Linked DNA regions of Homo sapiens. The protein of the gene in region 1 purifies or fractionates together with the protein of each later gene. This does not show direct contact. Each region holds a gene or a part of one and is shown in the gene's direction. Other genes may lie near its edges.

What was found.
Region 2: the proteins of SLC26A4 (region 1) and BCKDHA purify together in Homo sapiens (affinity purification with mass spectrometry; one large-scale study listed by BioGRID and IntAct). This does not show direct contact.
Region 3: the proteins of SLC26A4 (region 1) and ITM2C purify together in Homo sapiens (affinity purification with mass spectrometry; one large-scale study listed by BioGRID and IntAct). This does not show direct contact.
Region 4: the proteins of SLC26A4 (region 1) and ANKRD13A purify together in Homo sapiens (affinity purification with mass spectrometry; one large-scale study listed by BioGRID and IntAct). This does not show direct contact.

The regions. Positions count from the first base shown.
Region 1 is NC_000007.14:107,674,328-107,677,827, forward strand, and holds part of SLC26A4 (pendrin), read left to right. Parts: coding exon 1-21; intron 22-617; coding exon 618-782; intron 783-3,500. UniProt on the Homo sapiens protein: Sodium-independent transporter of chloride and iodide. Mediates electroneutral chloride-bicarbonate, chloride-iodide and chloride-formate exchange with 1:1 stoichiometry. Mediates electroneutral iodide-bicarbonate exchange.
Region 2 is NC_000019.10:41,407,818-41,411,317, forward strand, and holds part of BCKDHA (2-oxoisovalerate dehydrogenase subunit alpha, mitochondrial isoform 1 precursor), read left to right. Parts: intron 1-2,819; coding exon 2,820-2,999; intron 3,000-3,105; coding exon 3,106-3,192; intron 3,193-3,500. UniProt on the Homo sapiens protein: Together with BCKDHB forms the heterotetrameric E1 subunit of the mitochondrial branched-chain alpha-ketoacid dehydrogenase (BCKD) complex.
Region 3 is NC_000002.12:230,877,345-230,879,748, forward strand, and holds the end of ITM2C (integral membrane protein 2C), read left to right. Parts: intron 1-55; coding exon 56-206; intron 207-663; coding exon 664-755; 3' UTR 756-1,904; downstream 1,905-2,404. UniProt on the Homo sapiens protein: Negative regulator of amyloid-beta peptide production. May inhibit the processing of APP by blocking its access to alpha- and beta-secretase.
Region 4 is NC_000012.12:110,030,430-110,033,929, forward strand, and holds part of ANKRD13A (ankyrin repeat domain-containing protein 13A), read left to right. Parts: intron 1-215; coding exon 216-329; intron 330-2,017; exon of another isoform or gene 2,018-2,281; intron 2,282-3,367; coding exon 3,368-3,500. UniProt on the Homo sapiens protein: Ubiquitin-binding protein that specifically recognizes and binds 'Lys-63'-linked ubiquitin. Does not bind 'Lys-48'-linked ubiquitin.

The DNA.
Region 1 (3,500 bases):
CTGCTGGTTGGAATTATACAGGTAATGAACTTACAAGTAAAATATAGATGGATGTAATTTTTATTTGAAATTAACTTTAAAGCATATAGACTTAAAGATTCTACTAAAAACAAAACAAAGTAATTTCCTGGAACCCAAAATTATTTTCTAAATTACGTTGTTTTAGGTCAGGTGCTAAAATAGTAAGCAAGACCCCACTTATTAAGGCTCACTTATCATCAAAGTCAGAGACAGAAAAAAGCACAGAAGAACATGTGTGATTCAATTGAGGATGAGAGAAGGGAAATATACGGGAATCCATAAAGGAGAAAAAGTGTTCTGGTGAGCGGAGACACAGGACCGAAAGCCACATAAATAAGCTCTGGGTTTTTGCTTTTCTAAGTACATGTATAGAAATACTTCAAGGTTTTTATTACACTTAGTTTTCAAATTTTAGAGTGGTGGAGGAAGGGGAGTGATAGGGTATTAAGAAATTCATATTTTTTTCTACCAGTATTTTTGTGCTATAGGCAGGCTACTAGTGTTTTCATTGGTATTAAGCTTGATGTAATATTTCCAGAGAGTAGGTTTCTATCTCAGGCAAACATTTAATTTTTCTTTCCTTTTCCTTATCGTAGTTGATATTTGGTGGCTTGCAGATTGGATTCATAGTGAGGTACTTGGCAGATCCTTTGGTTGGTGGCTTCACAACAGCTGCTGCCTTCCAAGTGCTGGTCTCACAGCTAAAGATTGTCCTCAATGTTTCAACCAAAAACTACAATGGAGTTCTCTCTATTATCTATGTAAGTGTTGCTTCTTGCTCCAGGGATGGGTCACTGTTCATTCCAGAAACAATTGTATTCATTCTCTGAGTCTGGGCCAGGCGTGGTGGCTCACACCTGTAATCCCAGCACTTTGGAAGGCCGAGGTGGGCAGATTGCTTGAGCCCAGGAGTTTGAGACGTGAGACCTCATCTCTTAAAAAAAAAAAAAAAAAAAAAGAAAGAAAGAAAAGAAAAGAAAAAGAAAGAAAAAATCCAAAAATCCGAAAATTTGCTGGGTGTGGTGGTGCACACTTGTAGTCTCAGCTACTTGGGAGGCTGAGGTGGGAAGATCTCCTGAGCCCTGGAGGTTGAGGCTGCAGTGAGCTGTGATCGCCCCACTGCACTCCACCCTGGGTGACAGAGCAAGAACCTGTTTCAAGCAAAAACAAAATCAAAACAAAACAAAACTTGAGTCTGGGAGCACCCACATTTCTTTCTTTCTTTCTTTTTTTTTTTTTTTTTGAGACAGAGTCTTACTCTGTCACCCAGGCTGGAGTGCAGTGGCATGATATTGGCTCACCACAACCTCCACCTCCCGGGTTCAAGCGATTCTCCTGCCTCAGCCTCCTGAGTAGCTGGGATTACAGGCGCCCGCCACCACACCCAGCTAATTTTTGTATATTTAGTAGAGACAGGGTTTCACCATTTGGGCCAGGCTGGTCTTGAACTCCTGACCTTGTGATCCACCCACATCGGCCTCCCAAAGTGCTGGGATTACAGGCGTGAGCCACCGCGCCCGGCCTGGGAGCACCCACATTTCTCTATGCATACTTTGGGAGCCATTGAAAACATTTGGTTGCTTCTGTCAGAAATACTATTGTACTTAAAAACATTAATGAAAACAAAGTGGTCTAATGAAGTAAAGGCTGCTCTGGAATGTAACAGACTTGATTTCTAGCCTCAGCTTTGTCTCTAACAGGTAAGTGACCCTGGATACATCATGTAGGGTGCTAATTGAAAGCTCAGTTTTAGAACTGGATGGACCTTGATTCATATTCTGGCTCTACTGTCTACTAGCCATGTGAGCCAATCACCATGCCTCAGTTTCCTTCTCTGCAAAATTGGGTTAGTAATAGTATATGCCTCATTGGATTGTTAAATAAGAATAGATAAGCACTTGGCCCAGGGGCTGGTACATAACAAGTACTCTAAATAAAGGAGTTATTTTGAAATGATTATTTCAAGCCATCTTTTCTTTTTTATTGGTGAAATGAAATGATTGGAGATGTATCTCTAAAAGCTTTTTCTAACCATAAGAGTCCGTAAAATGCATAATGTAAATGTCTCAACAATTATAAATGAAAAGGAACATTAGATTCAGAGATGATTCACCATGCAAAAGAAATGCAAAAGCAGGATGTAGATCACACTAATTAGATTTGAAAAAGGTTTTGGATCTAAAAATGTGTTCTACATAAAGCATGTTATTGATGCTTGAAAAATGGTGATAATAGTAACATGATGTCATCCTAGCTTGGGGGGAATGATACCATACAAAAATAACGTGTCAACATTAAGAATGGAGTTTGAGTCTTTAAAGACCCACCTATTAGCTTCTAAAACAATGTAAGGCCATGTACACATATCTAAGAATTGGTGAGTATGTCAATAATTGCTCAATTTTATAACGGTGCCATAATCCCATACTATTACACTCCATCCATTCAACAAATATTACCAAGTGCTTACTACAGGCCAGGTACTATGCTAAGCAGTGAGAATAGACAGAGGAGGCAGAATAACATAGTGAATAAGATCATGAGGCCAGGTGTGGTGGCTCATGCCTGTAATCCCAGCAGTTTGGGAGACTGACACAGGTGGATCACTTGATCCCATGAGTTCAAGATCAGCTTGGGCAACATGACAAAACCTTGTCCCTACTAATAATACAAAAATAATTAGACATGCATTGTGGCACGCACCTGTAGTCCCAGCTACTTGGGAGGCTGAGGTGAGAGGATCACCTGAGCTCAGGAAGTTGAGGCTGCAGTGAGCCGAGATCATGCCACTGCCTTCCAGCCTGGGTGATGGGAGTGAGACCCTGTCTCAAACAACAATAACAGCAACAACAAACAAAAAACCAAAAACAAACAAAAAAGATCATGGACTTTGAACTTCAACAGACTTGAGTTGGCATCTTGGTTCTCCACCCACTACCCATGATGTTTATACTCAACTTCCCTAAGCCTCAGTGTCCTCAATTGTAAAATGGGAGTAGTAATAGTAGCTACCTCTTAGAGCAGTGAGGATTGAAAAAGAAAATACGTGTAAGGCACTTAGCACAATATCTGTCACATAGTAAGAATTGAGTTTATTATTATTATTATCACAGATGAATAGACCTCATGAAGCTCGCCGTTCATTTCCTCGGGACCCAGCCTATTAGGAAACATTAGCAAAAGTTTTTGATTCAGCATTATATGGGTCATTCTTGATATGTTTTTTCCTGTCAAATCCTCAGTTTTCTATTAAAAAAGAATTTTTTTTTTTTTTTGAGACAGGGTCTTGCCCCATTGCCTGGGCTGGAGTACAGTAGCACAGTCATAGCTCACTGCGACCTCCATCTCCCTGTGTCAAGCGATTCTTCCCCCTCAGCCTCATGAGTAGCTGGAACTACAGGTGTGCACCACCACACCTGGCTAATTTTCTTTTTCTTTGTTGAATTTTAGTAGAGGCAATGTCTTGCTATGTTGCCCAG
Region 2 (3,500 bases), on another chromosome or scaffold:
TCGGAGGAATCCCGGGAGTAGTGGGAAGAAAAGTTGCAGATGTTTGAAAATCAGGCTGCAGGGGCAGTTGGGGTGAGGAGCATGGATGTCTAGGAGCCTGAATCTCAGCGTTGGAAGCCCAGTTCTGATGTAATTTTTTTTTTTTTTTTTTTTTTTGAGACAGGGTCTCACTTTGTCCCCCAGGCTGGAGTGCAGTGGCACAGTCTCAGCTCACTACAGCCTCATCCTTCCAGGTTCAAGCAGTCCTCCTGCCTCAGCCTCCCAAGTAGCTGGGACCACAGGCATGTGTCACCATGCCTTTCTAATGTTTGTATTTTTTTGTGGAGACAGGGTTTCTCACTGTTGCCCAGGCTGGTCTCAAACTCCTGAGCTCATGTGATCCTCCTGCCTTGGCCTTCCAAAGTGCTAGGATTACAGGCGTAAGCCACTGCCCAGCATCCCCACCTTTTTTTTTTTTTTTTTAAATTTGTGGTTTGGTGCAGGTTATTTTACCTCCCCAGGCCTCGGTTTCCTCATCTACTCAAGGGCAATGGCAGATAATCAACCTCACAAATTCCCCGAGGAGTTAGTAGGCTTGTGCCTGCCAGGCTCAGCTGGCTTACAGCAGGTGCTTCATAAGGGGGAGCTATTGCAACGCCTCGGCTGGTTCTAGGCTGCCTAGCTCCAGAGCTAAGAGTCCCAGTGGGTTCATATCCCTTTGAGCATTTATAGGCTTCTCACAGGTCTCCTGGGCTTTCTCAGCCATTCCTCATCTGACCTGAGGAGGTGTGATGTCCTTGCAGGACTCCTCCAGCCCCTCTGAGCTTTTTTTTTTGTTTGAGACAGCATGTTGCTCTGTTGCCCAGGCTGGAGTGCAGTGGTGTGATCATGGCTTACTGCAGCCTCCACCTCCTGGGGTCAAGCGATTCTCCCACCTCAGCCTTCCAAGTAGCTGGGACTATAGGTGTATGTTACCATGCTTGAGTAATTTTTAAAATTTTTTGTAGAGATGTGATCTCAGGCTGGTCTTGAACTCCTGGGCTCACCTGGGCTCAAGTAATCCTTGAGCCCAAAGTGTTGGGATTACAGATATGAGCCACCTTGCCAGGCCCTGAGCTCCTTCTGTCTTCCATGAAGGACACACTATTCCTTGCCTTTTGTCTTTTTTTGTGTGTGTGGCAGGGTCTCTGTTGCCCAGGCTGGGATGTGTTGGTGCAATCTGGGCTTATTGCAACCTCCGCTTCCCGGATTCAAGTGATTCTCCTGCCTCAGCCTCTTGAGTAGCTGGGATTACAGGTGTGCGCAACCACGCCCAGCTAATTTTTGTATTTTTGGTAGACATGGGGTTTCACCATGTTGGCCAGGCTGGTCTCAGCCTCCCGAAGTGTTGGGATTACAGGCATAAGCCACTGTGCCTGGCCACTTTTTGTCTTTTGCATGTTCTATACACCTTGCCGAGAATGTGCTTTCCCTGCCTCCTGGTTATCCCTCAGGTTTCAGCTCTAACATCACTTCCCCAGGGAAGCCTTACCCTCGCTTTCTTCTGCTATAGGATAATATGAACCACCATCATTGTTACTTGTTTAGTGTCTGCCCTCCCTGCTAGGCAGCAAGGACAGATATCTTGCCTGTCTTAGGTCCCCAGAACCCAGCACAGGGCTTGGAACATGTCAGGTGCTCAAATATTTGTTGAATGAGTCAGTCTGGGCTCGCAGAGGGAGCTGGGACCAGAGTAGAGTGGACACTGAAGCGTATGTAGCAGTTTGCCAGGCGATAGGGAAAGAGACCTTCTTGTAAAGCAAGCAGAGATGAGAGGGAGAAATGAGAATTGCTAAGATTGTTTTGAGCATTTGTTAGGTGGCTTACAGATGCTTTGCTGAACATTTTATTCATGTGATCTTGTTTAAGCCTCTCATTTCCATGAGGGGTTCTCCATTTTTATAGACAAGGAAGGGGACACGTGGAGAGGGGAAGTTACTTTGCCATATCACCCTCTAAGGGATTTTTTTTTTTTTTTTTTTTTTTGAGATGGAGTCTCACTGTCACCAGGCTAGAGTGCTATGGCGCAATCTCGGCTCACTGCAACCCCCACCTCCCGGGTTCAAGTGATTCTCTTGCCTCAGCCTCCTGAGTAGCTGGGACTACAGGCATGTGCCACCACATCCGGCTAATTTTTCTATTTTTAGTGGGTACAGGGTTTCGCCATGTTGGCCACATTGATCTCGAACTCCTGACCTCAAGTGAGATTCGCCTGCCTCTGCCTCCTAAAGGCAGTAAGGGAATTGAACCTAGGCAGTCTGACTCTTAAGAGCTCAAAGACTTAAGCTCTGTCCTGAGTAGCTTCGCTGGTGTATGGTATAGGGATCAGAAGAGAGCTGGTCTGTATGCCTAGAGGGCATCCTGCAGTGGGCATGTGTGTCTGTGGTCACAGTGGGAGAGAGAGAGGAGGGGGCATCTGTGGCCAGAATGGGGAGGCCTCGAATGCCAGGATGAAGAGTTTGGGCCTATGGTAATGAGAATAGTAATAGCTACCAGTTATTGACTTGCCAGCCACTTGATTGAGTCATTTAACCTCACAACAGTCCTATGGGATAGGTGTTAACTGTTTTCATCCCAGTTTTTCAGATGGGGAAACTGAGACACAGAAGTTGTAGTCAGTTATCCAAAGTGTCGCAGTGAGAAAGTGCTGGAGTTGGGGCTCAGACCCTGTGAGTCAGGCCCCAGAGTTCACTGGGGCCACATGCTCAACCACCATGCCGCCTGCCTGCCGCCGGGGCTGAGCCAGCGGAAACCTGGGTGCTGCTTCTGATGCAGGTGGTCTCCTCTGCTCTCTTCCCCAGCACCCCCCCAGGCAGCAGCAGCAGTTTTCATCTCTGGATGACAAGCCCCAGTTCCCAGGGGCCTCGGCGGAGTTTATAGATAAGTTGGAATTCATCCAGCCCAACGTCATCTCTGGAATCCCCATCTACCGCGTCATGGACCGGCAAGGCCAGATCATCAACCCCAGCGAGGACCCCCACGTGAGAGGCGGCCTCCCCCACTTCCCGTGCCCCCCACGCCCAGGCCCCTTGCCTGTCTCCTCTCTGGTCCCAACTGCCCCACGTCTATCTGTGCCTCCACCCGCAGCTGCCGAAGGAGAAGGTGCTGAAGCTCTACAAGAGCATGACACTGCTTAACACCATGGACCGCATCCTCTATGAGTCTCAGCGGCAGGTGCGTGGGGACAGGACTAGGGGCGGGGGGCTGGAATTACCTGAGGTCCCCTACCTGTGTTTGGGCCAAAGGAATGGCTCCCAAGGAGGACAGATTCTTTTTTGGGGGGGTTCCATAGAGTTCTGAGGGTTCTCTTGGGACTCTGGAGGAGAAGTGTGAGAGCAGTCCTGCCTTAGGGCAGAAGGATGGACCTGATCACTAAAAAACACCTACTGTGTGCCTGGCTGGGGGCTCGCCTGTGTGGGGAGAGGGCAGGGAGAAGGCCTGACAGCCCTTCCTCTTGGAAATGCACAGTCCTGAGAAACAGG
Region 3 (2,404 bases), on another chromosome or scaffold:
GGTTGGACGAAAGCCTGAGGGGCCGACTCACTGTGGCGGCCACCTTGTTTTGCAGAGGGGGACCTACCTGCCGCAGACGTACATCATCCAGGAGGAGATGGTGGTCACGGAGCATGTCAGTGACAAGGAGGCCCTGGGGTCCTTCATCTACCACCTGTGCAACGGGAAAGACACCTACCGGCTCCGGCGCCGGGCAACGCGGAGGCGTGAGTGGCTGGCTTCACCCACAGTAGCCCCTGTCCCGTGCCCCAGACCACAGTTATCTTCACGCCTAGCCCAGCTGTCAGAGAGCTCAGATAGCAGCAGCAATAACAGCTAGCATTAGCAGAGCACTTCCGTGTGCCGGGCAATGCTGTGTGCTCTTTATGACCTCTTAAGAGTGTAAGTCATTCTCATCCTCATTATTATTTTTGCTGCCCATTTTAAAGATGAGGAAACAGGTGCAGAGAGGTTAACACCCTGGAGGTCACACAGCAGGGAGGTGGCAGACATGGGCAGGCTGACTCCAGCTTTCGAGCTCTCCCCATTTCTCACTGTGCTCTTTGGGTGAATCTGGGTGAATGGTGTCACTTCCTGGCCCTCCTGTGGCTCAGGCTGAGGCTGGTGGTCTTTGTGACTCAGCCAGGATGCAGGGCTCACTGGGGTTTTTCTTTTTCCTCCCAGGGATCAACAAGCGTGGGGCCAAGAACTGCAATGCCATCCGCCACTTCGAGAACACCTTCGTGGTGGAGACGCTCATCTGCGGGGTGGTGTGAGGCCCTCCTCCCCCAGAACCCCCTGCCGTGTTCCTCTTTTCTTCTTTCCGGCTGCTCTCTGGCCCTCCTCCTTCCCCCTGCTTAGCTTGTACTTTGGACGCGTTTCTATAGAGGTGACATGTCTCTCCATTCCTCTCCAACCCTGCCCACCTCCCTGTACCAGAGCTGTGATCTCTCGGTGGGGGGCCCATCTCTGCTGACCTGGGTGTGGCGGAGGGAGAGGCGATGCTGCAAAGTGTTTTCTGTGTCCCACTGTCTTGAAGCTGGGCCTGCCAAAGCCTGGGCCCACAGCTGCACCGGCAGCCCAAGGGGAAGGACCGGTTGGGGGAGCCGGGCATGTGAGGCCCTGGGCAAGGGGATGGGGCTGTGGGGGCGGGGCGGCATGGGCTTCAGAAGTATCTGCACAATTAGAAAAGTCCTCAGAAGCTTTTTCTTGGAGGGTACACTTTCTTCACTGTCCCTATTCCTAGACCTGGGGCTTGAGCTGAGGATGGGACGATGTGCCCAGGGAGGGACCCACCAGAGCACAAGAGAAGGTGGCTACCTGGGGGTGTCCCAGGGACTCTGTCAGTGCCTTCAGCCCACCAGCAGGAGCTTGGAGTTTGGGGAGTGGGGATGAGTCCGTCAAGCACAACTGTTCTCTGAGTGGAACCAAAGAAGCAAGGAGCTAGGACCCCCAGTCCTGCCCCCCAGGAGCACAAGCAGGGTCCCCTCAGTCAAGGCAGTGGGATGGGCGGCTGAGGAACGGGGCAGGCAAGGTCACTGCTCAGTCACGTCCACGGGGGACGAGCCGTGGGTTCTGCTGAGTAGGTGGAGCTCATTGCTTTCTCCAAGCTTGGAACTGTTTTGAAAGATAACACAGAGGGAAAGGGAGAGCCACCTGGTACTTGTCCACCCTGCCTCCTCTGTTCTGAAATTCCATCCCCCTCAGCTTAGGGGAATGCACCTTTTTCCCTTTCCTTCTCACTTTTGCATGTTTTTACTGATCATTCGATATGCTAACCGTTCTCAGCCCTGAGCCTTGGAGAGGAGGGCTGTAACGCCTTCAGTCAGTCTCTGGGGATGAAACTCTTAAATGCTTTGTATATTTTCTCAATTAGATCTCTTTTCAGAAGTGTCTATAGAACAATAAAAATCTTTTACTTCTGACCTTGACTTGAGTGTGGCTGGAGGGGAGATGGGTGTAGGAGGGGTGCTCCGGGCAGGGTCGAGGAGCTGGACCTCGGGAGCAGCAGGCAGGGAGAAGCCTGCAGACCTTGACATCTGGCCCCTAAAGAGCTGGGCATCCTGGATTCAGCCAAGGAGTGTAGGATATCCCCTTCGTAGCACCCTGGATCTGAGCCAGGTAGAGTTCACACTTTCCGGGTGAGGAGGGGAACAGGGCTGGGAGAGCTTACCGACTCGCCCAAGGTCGTGCTGCTTTAAGTGCCTGTAAACCACCCTGTAATGTTCTACCTGGCAGATGACATCATTATTGCATGTCCTTAAGCACAAGGGCGGTGTCCTATTCTCCACCACGTCTGGACAATTTGTAACCATTCCTGGAGGATCTGAAGTGAGGTTTGGTGTGATAATCACAGGGTCACATTCTCCAGAGAATTCTGGAAGCGGCAGGAGAGCTGGCCAGAGCCATGTCTAGGTGGACCCCA
Region 4 (3,500 bases), on another chromosome or scaffold:
GTGCTGGGATTACAGGTGTAAGCCACCGCGCCTGACCGAAAATACACAACTCTCAATCTCAGTTTTCCCGTCTGTGTATTGGGAAGGGTTGTTATGAGGCTTAAATAAAATTATACTTATCAAAGTACTTGGCATAGTAAGCACTTAGTAAATGATAACTATTATTGTTATTCTCAGTAAAGTTTACTTATAAAAGTTTTTATTTTGTTTGTTAGAAATTCCCTTGTTTCATGTCTTAAATGCACGGATTACATTTGGAAATGTTAATGGCTGTAGCACTGCCGAAGAATCTGTATCTCAAAATGTGGAAGGGACCCAGGCTGATTCAGGTAAAAAAATAAATAAATACAAAGTTTAGTTTTGTTATTTAAAAAAAAATTTATGGCCGGACGTGGTGGCTTATGCCTGTAATCCCAGCACTTTGGGAGGCCGAGGTGGGTGGATCACCTGAGGTCGGGAGTTTGAGACCAGCCTGACCAACATGGAGAAACCCTGTCTCTACTAATAATACAAAAATTAGCCGGGTGTGGTGGCGCATGCCTGTAATCCCAGCTACTCGAGAGGCTGAGGCAGGAGAATCGCTTGAACTGGGGGAGAGGCGGGGGGATGGAGGTTGCTGTGAGCCGAGATTGTACCATTGCACTCCAGCCTGGGCAACAAGAGCAAAACTACATCTCAAAAAAAAAAAATTATAATTCAGTCATCATATTCATAATTCACTCTGAAGCTGGAATATCTGAGGGAGTAGATGTCTGTGTTGGATGAAAGAAAATTTCAGATTTAGTTTAGATTAAGCAAAAAAAAACTTGTAGAATATATATGATCCTAGTTATATTAAAAAGAAAGGATGTTCTTAAAAATCAGCTTTATTGAGGTGTAATGTACATACAATAAAATGCTCTCATTTTAAGTGTGATGGTTCAGTGCATTTTTTTTTTTTTTCTCAGAGTCTCACTCTGTCACCTAGGCTGGCATGCAGTGGCACAATCTCTGCTCACTGCAGCCTCTGCCTCCCAGGCTCAAGCGATTTTCTTGCCTAGTCTCCCAAGTAGCTGGGAATACAGGTGCGTGCCACCATGCCTGGCTGATTTTTGTATTTTTATTAGAGACTGGGTTTCACCATGTTGGCTAGGCTGGTCTGGAACTCCTGACCTCAAGTGATCCACCCAGCTCGGCCTCCCAAAGTGCTAGTGTGAGCCACCATACCCAGCCACATTTTGACAAATGTATGCATCTGTGTAACCACCACCATAGTCAAGGTAGACAGCATTTCCATATGCCCCCAAATTTCCTTACACTCCTTTGCCATCAATACAATTCATGATTTTAGATGCAATTGTAAATGGACTTATTTTCTTAATTTCATTTCCAGTTACTAGTATATAGAAATATAATTGAGTTTTGTATTTTGACCTTGAATCGTTTTTAAAAATTTTTTATCTTTTTTTTTTCTTACACAATTGCATGGCCAGGATTGACCTTGTTTATCTTGTAACATGGCTGAATTTACTTGTCTTACACTTTTTTGTAGATTTCTTAGAATTTCTTACATATATGGTCATGTTGTCTATTAATAAAGAAAATTTTACTTTTTCCTTTCTAATCTTTAAGCTTTTCATTTCTTTTTCTTGACTTACTGGACTGGCTAGGACATCTAGTACAATGTTGAGTAAGAGTGGTAGGAATGGCTGTCCTTGTCTTGTTCCTGGTTCTAGGGGAGGAAGGATTGTTGTGCCATTAGGTATGATGTTAGCTGTGTAGGTTTTTTATAAATGTCCCTTATTAGTTGGAGGACATTATTCTCTTATATTTCTAGTTTGCTGAGAGTTATTACCATTTTTAAGTATTGATTTTTGTGAGATGTGTTTTCTGCAACTATCATGATGGTCCTATGTTTCTCCCCTGTAGTCTACCAGTAGGAGGAATTAAAAGATAGCATTTTAATGTATATAAATTAAGACTTCAAATAAAAACAATTGAACTCGACAATAATATACACCTTTACATTCCCATGTAGCAACAAAGTTGGGTGAGATGTGTTCATGAGGTTGTGCAGCTAAGGAACACTCGTGCACTCTTGGCTGGAAGAGGAGATTGGTATAGTTCCTTGAATAAAACATTCGGCATTACTGTATAAACTGAAGATGTGGATGACCTAGCAATTCCTAGATGTGTACCCTAAAGAAAGTTATGCACATGAGCATCTGGAGACCCCAGTACTGGGCAGCAGCATCCATTCATAACAGCAGAAACCTGGAAACGACCCAAATGTCCCGAGATGGTAGAATGCGCTATTGTGCTCTATTAATACAACAGAATAACATATAGTATTGAAAATAAAAATTTATAGCTATGTGCGTCAAAACTGTTGAATTTCAAAAGCATAATGTTGAATGAAGAAAATCCAATTTGAAGAATAAATTCCGCATGATTCCATTTATGTCGAGTTCACAAACAGGCTAATACAAACTATTAGGATGATATACATGTGGCAAGCTCCAGAGAAGAGCTAGGCAGTGTAAACAACTATTCTGAATTATGTATTTACCTCTGGAGAGGAAGAAGGGAATATTGTTAACAAGGGATGTGCCCGCAGTATGGTATTGATAGTGTTTTTTTCTTTTTCTTTTTTTTTTTTTTTTTTGAGACAGTCTTACTCTGTCACCCAGGCTGGAGTGCAGTGGTGCGATCTTGGCTCACTGCAAGCTCCGCCTCCCGGGTTCATGCCATTCTCCTGCCTCAGCCTCCCGAGTAGCTGGGACTACAGGTGCCCGCCACCACGCCCGGCTAATTTTTTTTTTTTTTTGTATTTTTAGTAGAGACGGGGTTTCACCATGTTAGCCAAGATGGTCTCGATCTCCTGACCTTGTGATCTGCCTGCCTCAGCCTCCCAAAGTGCTGGGACTACAGGCGTGAGCCACCGCGCCCGGCAGTTATTGATAGTGTTCTGTGTCTTAGGCTAGGTGAAGGGCACACAGGCATTTGTTTAATTATTATCATTTTTAAGTGTTCAGATATTTTATATATACTTTTATATATTTACCATATATCTTCCTGCAAAAGGAAGAAACACATTGGTGTGACTGTGCGTATATGTTTAGGGGGAGAAATCTGCGCTTTTCATTTTATAGTCTTGTGTATTTTTTTATGACTGTGTTCGTTGTTTCCACTAAAATCAAGGAAAAAGAAAAAAGCTGTATTCTGTCACTTTTTTCTGTCATGCTTCCTCAGAATCTCTCATATAATAGTAAGCCTTGATTGTTATAATTTTGAGCCTTTCTTTTTTTTCTAATGTACAACATTTTTGCAAAAAGTTGGAGTGGAAATGTAATGAACTCAGACACTGGACGGTTGCCTTTTGTTTCAGCTTCCCACATCACAAACTTTGAGGTTGATCAATCTGTGTTTGAAATTCCCGAATCTTACTATGTTCAAGACAATGGCAGAAATGTGCATTTGCAAGATGAAGATTACGAGATAATGCAGTTTGCCATCCAGCA